Linked DNA regions of Homo sapiens. The protein of the gene in region 1 purifies or fractionates together with the protein of each later gene. This does not show direct contact. Each region holds a gene or a part of one and is shown in the gene's direction. Other genes may lie near its edges.

Region 1 (3,660 bases):
GGCAATGACTGTGAAGTGCAAAATGGAACAAAGAGAAAGGGGGGTACCCAAAGATGCGAGATCTCAATTAATTTTTGCAAGAGAGAAAGCTGGTGAGCAGGTGGAGACATGAAACGGAGCATTGCTCAGAGAAGGGGGTGGCAGTCAGGCCTGTGGATGCCAGGACAGGCTCTGAGCTCCGTTCAGGCAGGTGCCGGGGGCAACAGTCAGAAGTGCGGCCGAAACAAGAGAACCAATTAAGGCACCAGCTGTGAAACAGGTGCACTGGCCTTCCCCCTCCCATCCCCAAAAGGAGAAGTAAATCTGTCAACACAAACTCCCCTGCATGCTCAGTGCTTATTAGAGAAAAGCCATCCAAGAAGAACCTTCCCAGGTTAGACCACTGAGCCCTCTCAGCTTTCCTGGGAACCGCACTGGAGACAACTGTATTAATTGAGGCCAAAGAGGCCAATCAAATTCCACAGTTCACAGACAGATTAATTTATATTCAAGTTATGGGAGGCGGAATCTATACCCCGTTTGCACAGAAGTTTGAAGGCTAACTGAGTACCAATCTGGCATGTAAATGAAGATGTAAATGAGTTTAGCAAACTTCACAGAGGTTGGGGAGTCTATGAATGGGGAACTTCCCTAACTGGACCCAGAAGGATCAGGACGCTCTGAGCAGTCACCCCTGTGCCCACCCTAACCCCTACTTTCACTGGACCCCTGGTCTTTGCTCTCTGACCCCAATTTTCCCGGCTTCTTCAGACAGATTTTTTCAAAAAATTATCCCCCCGACCTGACATCTTATTCTGAAGCTTTGAAACATTTAAAAAGTTAGAAAAATGATTCAGTAAACTCCTATGATCCCCTCACATAGATGCAGTACCCATGTGCAACATTTGCTATGTTACAGTTTGTGTGTGCACACGTTATTATTGTTGTTGTTACAGTTGTTTTTAATCTTTTTTTAAGAGATGGGGCTATAACTCGCTACATTGGCCAGGCTGGTCTCAAACTCCTGGGCTCAAGTGATCCTCCCACCTGGCCTCCCAAAGCTCTGGGATTACAAGCGTGAGCCACCTCACCTGGCCCATTGTTATAGTTGTTGTTTATACTGAGCCCTTTGAGAGTAGACTGCCAGACATCTCTTTACCCTTAAATGCTTTCATAGGGATCTCTGAGAACAAGAATATTCTCTTCAATAACCTCCATGCCATGATCAAATTCAGGAGACTAGGAGTCATATATTATTGTCCCAATACAGCCCATTGGGATGATTTCGACAGTCATTCCAAGAAGGGCCTTTATAGGACATTCTTTTCCAACCCAGAAGCACATGTGGCATTTAGTTCCAAACATCTCCTAAACCATCTTTTGATACTCACTGTGGCTGTTTTTGTTCTGCTATCCCATCAACTTCTATTTTGAGAACTGTGAGACCATCCCTGTCTCTGCAGTTGTTGAAGAAAATTTAGGCCCAGGAACCACTGCATAAGGCGGTCCAAACATTGGGGGCTCATGCACACATACACACACACACACACACGTACATGCATACACAAACATGCACACACACACTCACACATGCACACACATGTACTCACACCATGCACACACGCACACACGCACACACATACATGCATACACACATGCATACATGCACTCACACACATGCACACACGTACTCACACCATGCACACACATGCACTCACACACATGCACACATGCACTCATGCACACACATGCATGCACACCATGCACACACATGCACTCACACACATGCACACACATGCACTCATACCACGCACACATATGCACTCACACACCACAAATATTCTGCCCTGTGGAAGGGGCAGTGTTGGCAATGAATATTCCTTCAATAGGCACCGTCCTCAGCAACTATAAGGCCAACTTACAACATCTGAGAACAACCAAGGTTGGCCTTCAACTTTCAAGCTGAGTGCCCTTCCCCACCTCCAGGTGAGCTAGCCCATCTTGTCTGTGTTGCCAGCAAAAGTACAATATTTGTATAGAACAGTAATTACTTGCCTCTTACTGCTGTTTTAAAAAAATGCCCTAAACTTAGTGGCTTAAAACACATGAATTTGAGCCAGGCACAGTGGCTCACACCTGTAATCCCAACACTTTGGGAGGCTGAGGCGGGAGGATCACTTGAGAACAGGAGTTTGAGACCAGCCTGAGCAACATAACAATACCCCGTCTCTACAAAAATAAATAAATAAATTAGCTGTAGTCCCAGCTAGTTGGGAGGCTGAGGCAGGACGATCACTTGAGCAAGGGAGATCAAGGTTGCAGTGAGCCATGATTGTGCCACTGCATTCAGCCTGGGTGACAGAACAAGACCCTGTCTCAAAATTACTTTTGCACCAACCAAAAAATATATATATACATATATATACACACACACATATACACATATATATACACATATATACATATATACACATATATGCACATATATATACACATATATACATATATACACATATATACATATATACACATATATACACATATATATACACATCTATACACATATATATATACACATATATATATATACATATATATGCTTCCTCACCTTTTCAAGCTCCTTGAGGTTGTCCAAATTTCTTGGCTCATGGCCCCTTCCTCCATCTTCAAAGCCAATAGCATAGCATCTTCCAGCCTCTCTCTCTACTTCCAACATCACACCACCTAACTCTAACTCCAACACCACCACACTCCAACTCTAACCCTCCTGCCTCCATCTTATAAGTACCCTTGTCCTTATAAGCACAGTGGCTCACGCCTGTAATTACAGCACTTTGAGAGGCTGAGGTGGGAGGATTGCTTAAGACCAAGAGTTTGAGACCAGCCTGGGGAACCTAGTGAGACTCCCATCTCTACAAAAAAAAAAAAAAAAAAAAAAAAAGCTAGGCGTGGTGGCACAAACCTGTAGTCCCAGCTACTCAGGAGACTGAGGCTGGAGGATCCCTTGAGCCCAGGAATTGGAGACTGCAGTGAGCTATAATGGCACCACTGCCCCCCAGCTTGGGTGACAGAGCGAGACACTATTTCTGAAAAAACATGGGTTAGAATCATGGGTTGGAAGGCTACCTGTTGGGTTCTATGCTCACTACCTAGGTGATGGGATCATTCATACACCAAGCCTCAGCGACATGCAATTTACCCATGTAAAACCCCACACATGTACCTCCTTGAACCTAAAGTAAAAGTGGAGAAAAATGTATTAATTAATTCAATTAAAAATTAAAATTAAGAGGAAAAAGACCCCTGTGATAACATCAGGCCAAACCAGGTAATGCAGAATAATCCTCCCATCTCTAGAGACTTAACCACGTGTGCTTCAGAGGGAGCACAGCTGTGCCAAAACCTGGACTTTGAACTGTTGGCCTCCAGAACTGGGAGAGAATAAACTTCTGTTGTTTTAAGCCACCTAGTTGTGGTCACTTGTTATGGCAGCCTTTGGAAACCAACACACCCGCACATGGCGTGTTTAACGCAGGCTGATACAACCTTAAGAAAGGAATGGATGTGGTCATCAGCAATCTCCAATACCTACAGCAAATGGGAAGACAGGGAAGGACCAGAGGTGTAGGTAAAGCAAAAAGCCACAGGTCATTAGGAAGTGATGCTCCAACTGGGCATGGA
Region 2 (3,524 bases), on another chromosome or scaffold:
AGTTGACTATTATTAGCTGTCATAAGTAACTCAGCCATTTGGAAGCATTTCCTGGACAAAATTACATTATACCTGTGAAGAAAAATATAGAAGCTTTCAAGCTGTCATTCTGTTTTGGCCCTGTGTGAATTTGGTATATTAAATTGACGCTTGCTTTTTTTTTCAGTAGAGTTTTCTTTTTAATCAATCAAACGCCTACATTTCTGGAAGAAAAAGTCCAATTAGATCATTACACCTTAACTAAGAAGGCAAATCTTATAAATTTTGCTTGAATTGTTCTTACTCAAAACTACCTTAGAATATGGTATCTTATGAAAATATAATATTCTTAAAATTTTGGAGGATAAAATGAAAAGGGTATAAACTTCAATTAGAACTTTAATCCTAAAATATTGTTATTCTTGTATTTTTGGAGTTTTCCGTCCCTTACAATTTCTCCAAATTGGTCTATTCCCCAAGATATCCACTGTTTTCTACAGATTTTAGAATATAAAATTAAACATATCAACCTAAAATCTAGCTATGAATGTTATTTCAAGAGTTTTATATTTTTAATTGGCTTTTTAAAAATATGTAATTCCAATATTATAGTGAATGTTCAGTAACTTTTGTTGAAAGATAATGTGGTTTAGGCTTGCTAAAGAAAGGCTTGCTAGAATACTAAATTTACCTTGTTATTTGGAAAGAGAATCTGCTCCTATAACGTTTTAAAAATCCCCAAAGTCCCAGAGATTAGCACTTGCTATGGATTTTGGAACTATGGTTCAAGTCTAAGACAACCAATATGAATAAGTTCAATGGAGAAGGAAGAAGTAGCATTCAGCACAAGAAACTGTAGATTGTTTCTCCCACTTGTTACTGCATCTTTGTTCATTTCACCCATAGCATTGCATTTGATGTCTGAAGTAATTACCACAAAATAAAGGTAAACTACATCTTCCAAGATGTACCAACAGAAAACATTCGTCTAATTTTGTCAACATTGAATTTTTAGGATTTAAATCTTGTCTTAATGAAGACTCTAGGGCTAAAATTCATGGTCAGTTCCATAAAATGCATCTCACTTTATTTCTGAATTTTTCACAACCCCTCTATTTTCTTACATTAAAGAACATCTGGATAAGTTAGAATAGTGCCAACTTGTTTGATTTGTTATATGATTTTCTTGTTAATGTGTTGAGTATGGGAAATAAGGGCTTTCTGTGTGTCTTGACTCACAGGAAAACTGAAACTGCCAAGGGAAGCAACATTAAAACAACTGGGATAGATTGAATACATTTGAAAAAATAATTTCTGGAAAAACGCTATACATGCTTTTTATGTTTATATCTTCTTTCTTATTAAGACATGAATCAGATCCATGTGGCATTCAAAACAAATTTATTTTGGTTATATTCTTTACAAGTCATAATTTTTACCTAAAATTGTGGAATATGCATGTGAATTACACATGTGTAGTAATAAACTCAACTATTGAATTTTTCCTGTTTCATTTCTAAATGACTGAACTGATGGTAAACAAATTTAATGAAGTCAGCTACCATGTTGAAAATAAGGATATTAGAACTGATTTCATACAATAGAGGTGATCTGTGCATTATCCATAACAACGTTTTCTTTCACTATAGGACCACAGACAAATATTTATGTAAATAGGTATTTTTGTGTGATATTTTGTGGTACATATAACTTTTTTTAGTGTTTCACAGCATTATTATTTCATTTTATTTGTATTGAATAATGTTTTTAGGTCCAAGTAGACTTGAATTAATGTCATAATTGTCAGTATTATTGAAAATTATGTCAACTGTACTGTTATTCATCTGTCCCATAGTTTAGAACATGACCTGGCTATCTGGCATTGTTGCAAGTGCCTTAAATTCATGGCATCCTATTAAAAAAACAAATTTGGTGTTATGCTGCATGACAAAGACAAACACACCTCAAAATGTTGTCCTTTCTTAGCTTGCTGCGTTTTACAGTTCTTTCTGCTAACAATTTATAAGCCTTTATTATATAATATTGATGAATTACAGAAATGATGAAGTTGTTCTCTTATTTCTGTTAAATGTACCAGAGCTGTGTATCTGTTAATGAGATACAGCGTCATTTCTGTGAAATGTATAAATGTATGTGCAGGTCAAATTAATATATGACATTCTATCAGTCTGTATACAGGTATTCCTGTTTTGCTAAGCTGTGCAGATTCTGTAAAAATAAATTAGTGCAGTCAAGTTCTAACATATCTCATTTTATAGACTCCATTGACAATGGTCCAACCGAAAAGAAAAATTGGAAATGACTGCTAACCAGACCTCGTTATGAAACCAATGATGAAAAAGTCACTTGGTGCACCTCTCAACAAAACAGGATGCTTTTTCCGAGTTCTTGTATATGCAAATCATTTACGAGGCAAGTTTTCAACAGACCTAGAAAGCAAAACATTGAAAGTGTGTTGTTAGCCCTCCTCTCTGCCCCTGAATCAACAGACAGAGCTCTGGGACCTTGGCAATGACTCAGAGGTTGGGGCTTTCTGAGTAAAGGGACATTTCTTTAAGCATCATCTATCAAATTTATTTCAATGTATGATGTTTTTACAACTGGTCAGTTCTTTTGTATTCTTACAGCTATGGTTATTTGATTGTCCTCTTACAATTTGTTCTACATGAAAGAGTTCTTTGTTAGTCAGAATGCAACAAACTGTCATCAAATGGTCATTGACCACTTGCACTCTTTTGATGTAGATTAAAAACTTTTTCATAAATTTACCTGCTTTGATTTGCTCTGTATTTTTCCTGCAGCTGTAATTGCTGAGTGCCTGTTGTATACTTTATAGAGTTGAAATAAAAAAATAATTACTTTTGAACTTAGTTGATGTTTAATTCCAGACAAGATTCCAAGAATAGAATTGGTATATCATACTAGATGAAATACCAGGTAGTGCTGTTGTAGAATGTCACTATAACAAAGTAGGAAATACCTATAATCCAAGCATCCCTCATGAAATAATATACTATATTATAATCTAATATAAAACTAATCCAACAAATTGGTTTTAAAGAATTCATAGGAATAATGTTGGGCCATCCAGTGTGAAAAGCAAAGTGAATATAGATATTCACACAAACTCAGAAATTAGCAGATTTCTGAGCATGACCACCACACAGTCCTTTTTTGGGCTATCCCTAGTCAAACTCTGTACTAGGCAAAACAATCAAAGGGACAATTCTTGTATATTACTACATCCTAGGAGGAAATGATTTCATATGAAAAGCAACTTCATGAGTCTTTGTCCAAGGATTTTTCACCTGATTCCTTGGCTTCATCATATGCACAAAGAAGAAACATTTGGGGAACAATATGATTACAACAAATTCAACTCTCCAAAGCCTAGTTAAACATATTCTTTCTACATCCCTTTGTCCTTCTCTGCAGTAAATGATGCACACATGAAAACTGGCTGCAGCATGAAGATTCTCTCAATTACATTGTTTTTGTCTTTTTGACCTCACATTGCCAGTGAC
Region 3 (3,660 bases), on another chromosome or scaffold:
TCACCGTGTTAGCCAGGCTGGTCTCTATCTCCTGACCTCATGATCTTCCCGCCTTGGCCTCCCAAAGTGCTGGGATTACAGGTGGGAGCCACCATGCCCAGCCCAGAACCACTTTGTTTTTAAAAATTATGCCAATGAAAAGAAATCCAGTGAAATTTGTTTTATCTAAAACTTTTTCTTTTTTTCTTTTTCTTTTTTCTTTTTTTTTGGGGATGGAGTCTTGCTCTGTCACCCAGGGTGGAGTGCAGTGATGTGATCTTGGCTCACTGTAACCTCCGCCTCCCGGGTTCAAGTGAGTCTCCTGCCTCAGCCTCCAGAGTAACTGGGATTACAGGCGGGCGTCACCTCACCTGGCTAATTTTGTATTTTTAGTAGAGATAAGGTTTCAGCATGTTGGCCAGGCTGGTCTCGAACTCCTGACCTCAAGTGATCCACCTGCATCAGCCTTTCAAAGTGCTGGGATTACAGGCGTGAGCCACTACACCCAGCCTAAAACTTTTTCTATTACTGATTATGAGATATATGTGGGCCAGGTACAGTGGACTCATGCCTGTGATCCTAGCACCATGGGAGGCTGAGGCGGGAGTTTGAGTCCAGCCTGGACAACATAGTGAGACCCCAGCTCTACCAAAAATAAGTTAAAAATTAACTGGATGTGGTGGCACACACAGGTAGTCCCAGCTACCTGGGACTACAAATTCTAGGTAAAAAAAAATCTCGAAAATACATGGGAAGTTTCTTGTAGAAATTCCCTGTAGAATTGTCAGTCCATATGTTCTTTTCATTCTAAGTGTTAATGTACTTTACTATTTATATAGTTTGGACTCAGTGAAAAGGTTACATAGAAATCAATTAATTGTAGTTTTTTTTGTTTGTTTGTTTTTTGTTTTGTTTTGTTTTGAGACAGAGTTTCACTCTTGTTGCCTGGGCTGGAGTACAATGGCGTGGGTGGCCTCAGCTCACTGCAACCTCTGCCTCCCAGGTTCAAGCGATTCTCCTGCCTCAGCCTCCCGAGTAGCTGGGATTACAGGAATGCACCACCATGCCTGGCTAATTTTTTGTGTTTTTAGTAGAGATGGGGTTTCTCCATGTTGGTAAGGCTGGTCTCAAACTCCTGACCTCAGGTGATCCACCCGTCTCAGCCTCCCAAAGTACTGGGATTACAGGCGTGAGCCACTGTGCCCGGCCAGTGGTTTTAAGTAATGGTATATTAACTGGTAAAGAAAAGGAACAAACTACAGCAACATGAACAGTGAAAATGAATTACATAAATAATGTTGAACAACAACAAAAAGAACGTAAAGGAATACATACAGCTGATGCAGCAAGACAAGGAAAATAAAGGCATAAGATGGGAAAAAGAGTGATGAAATCGTTATGTGTAGATGACTTGATTGGCTTCACATATAAACTGTTGGAAATAATTAGTAAATTAGCAAAATTGCTGGTTGCAAAGTCAATAAACAAAAATAAAAATATTTCAATATACTAACAAGATTAAAAACAAAATGAAAATACCATTTAGAATATCATCAAAAATATCAAACCTAGGTCCATTGGTGCATTCTGATAGTCCCAGCTATTTGGGAGGCCGAGGTGGGAGAATCACATCAAGTCAGGAGTTTGAGGCTGCAGTACACTATGATCTATCTGTGAGTAGCCACTGTACTCCAGCCTAGAGACCCCATCTCTAAAAAATAAAAATTGAAAACTTTGGCCAGGCATGGTGGCTCACGCCTATAATCCCAGCACTTTGGGAGTAGAGGCAGGCAGATCACTTGAGGTCAGGAGTTTGAGACCAGCCTGGTCAACATGGCAAAACCCTGTCTCTACTAAAACTACAAAAATTAGCTGGGCGTGTTGGTGCGCGCCTGTATTCCCAGCTACTTGGGAGGCTGAGGCAGGAGAATTGCTTGAGCCCAGGAAGCTGAGGTTGCAGTGAGCCAAGCTTGCTCCATTGCACTCCAGCCTCAGTGACAAGCGTGAAACTCTGTCTCAAAAAAAAACAAAAAACTGAAAACTTGAAAAACAATTTAAAAATCAAATATTTAGGAATAAATATCACTAAAGATATTCAAAACTTAAAAACATAACTGGGTAAATTTGAAGAGGAAGTAATTGACAACTATATCGTGTTCATTTTTCCTCAAATTGTTCTAGATTTAATGCAATCAGTTGAAATATGATCAGTTTTTTAAATTAAATTGACAAACTGATTAAAATATGTATTCATTTATTTTTTGAGACGGAGTCTCGCACTGTCGCCCAGGCTGGAGTGCAGTGGTACCATCTCGGCTCACTGCAACCTCCGCCTCCCGGGTTCAAGCAAGTCTCCTGCCTCAGCCTCCTGAGTAGCTGGAACTACAGGTGCATGCCACCACACCTAGCTAATTTTCATATTTTTAATAGAGACGAAGTTCCACCATGTTGGCCAGGATGGCCTTGATCTCTTGACCTTGTGATTCGCCTGCCTCGTCCTCCCAAAGTACTGGGATTACAAGCGTGAGCCACCGCGCCTGGCTGAAAGGACGATTTTTTTTTTTTTTTTTTTTTTTTTTTTTTTGAGACGGAGTCTCGCTCTGTCGCCCCGGCGGGACTGCGGACTGCAGTGGCGCAATCTCGGCTCACTGCAAGCTCCGCTTCCCGGGTTCACGCCATTCTCCTGCCTCAGCCTCCCGAGTAGCTGGGACTACAGGCGCCCGCCACCGCGCCCGGCTAATTTTTTTTTGTATTTTTAGTAGAGACGGGGTTTCACCTTGTTAGCCAGGATGGTCTCGATCTCCTGACCTCATGATCCACCCGCCTCGGCCTCCCAAAGTGCTGGGATTACAGGCGTGAGCCACCGCGCCCGGCCCGATTTTTTTTTTTCAATAAATAATGCTGGGTCAATTGGATATCTATGTAGGAAAAACATGAACCTTGATTCCCTACCACATATCATACACAAATTTTTTTTTTTTTTTTTTTTGAGATGGAGTCTTGCTCTGTTGCCCAGGCTGGAGTACAGTGACACTATTTTGGCTCACTGCAACATCTGCCTTCTAGGTTCAAGCAATTCTCCTGCTTCAGCCTCCTGAGTAGCTGGGATTACAGGCGCATGCCACTATGCCCGGCTAATTTTTGTATTTTTAGTAGAGACGGGGTTTCACCATGTTGGACCAGGCTGGTCTCGAACACCTGACCTCAGGTGAATCGCCCGCCTTGGCCTCCCAAAGTGCTGGGATTACAGGCATGAGCCACTGCACCTGGCCCCACAAAATTTAATTATAGGTGTGAGCCACTGCACTTGGCCTAAAATCATTTTTAGTTATAAAAATAATACTAGGTCATGGTAAAAAAAATTAATTGAGTGTAGAACCTACAAAATGAAACTGGTAATACTCTTCCACCTCCTGCCAGCTCCACTAGTCCCACTCCCAGAGGGTATATATAGACATTATGAATCTTGCTTTTTAAAGTAAAGTTTTAAGTGGAAATTTTTTAAAAAGTTCCAGTCACTTGGAAAATATTCATAAGCAAATATTTCAGTACTATTTTTACTGTTTCTTAGATTTCTGCACCTAATGAATTTGATGTCATGTTTAAACTGGAAGTCCCCAGAATTCAACTAGAAGAATATTCCAACACTCGTGCATATTACTTTGTGAAATTTAAAAGAAA

The links.
Region 2: the proteins of OAS2 (region 1) and PRKG1 purify together in Homo sapiens (affinity purification with mass spectrometry; 2 studies listed by BioGRID and IntAct, with this or other methods). This does not show direct contact.
Region 3: the proteins of OAS2 (region 1) and CGAS purify together in Homo sapiens (affinity purification with western blotting; one study listed by BioGRID). This does not show direct contact.

What each region holds. Positions count from the first base shown.
Region 1 is NC_000012.12:112,998,969-113,002,628, forward strand, and holds part of OAS2 (2'-5'-oligoadenylate synthase 2), read left to right. Parts: intron 1-3,660.
Region 2 is NC_000010.11:52,295,485-52,299,008, forward strand, and holds the end of PRKG1 (cGMP-dependent protein kinase 1), read left to right. Parts: 3' UTR 1-2,866; downstream 2,867-3,524. UniProt on the Homo sapiens protein: Serine/threonine protein kinase that acts as a key mediator of the nitric oxide (NO)/cGMP signaling pathway. GMP binding activates PRKG1, which phosphorylates serines and threonines on many cellular proteins.
Region 3 is NC_000006.12:73,445,638-73,449,297, reverse strand, and holds part of CGAS (cyclic GMP-AMP synthase), read left to right. Parts: intron 1-3,550; coding exon 3,551-3,660. UniProt on the Homo sapiens protein: Nucleotidyltransferase that catalyzes the formation of cyclic GMP-AMP (2',3'-cGAMP) from ATP and GTP and plays a key role in innate immunity.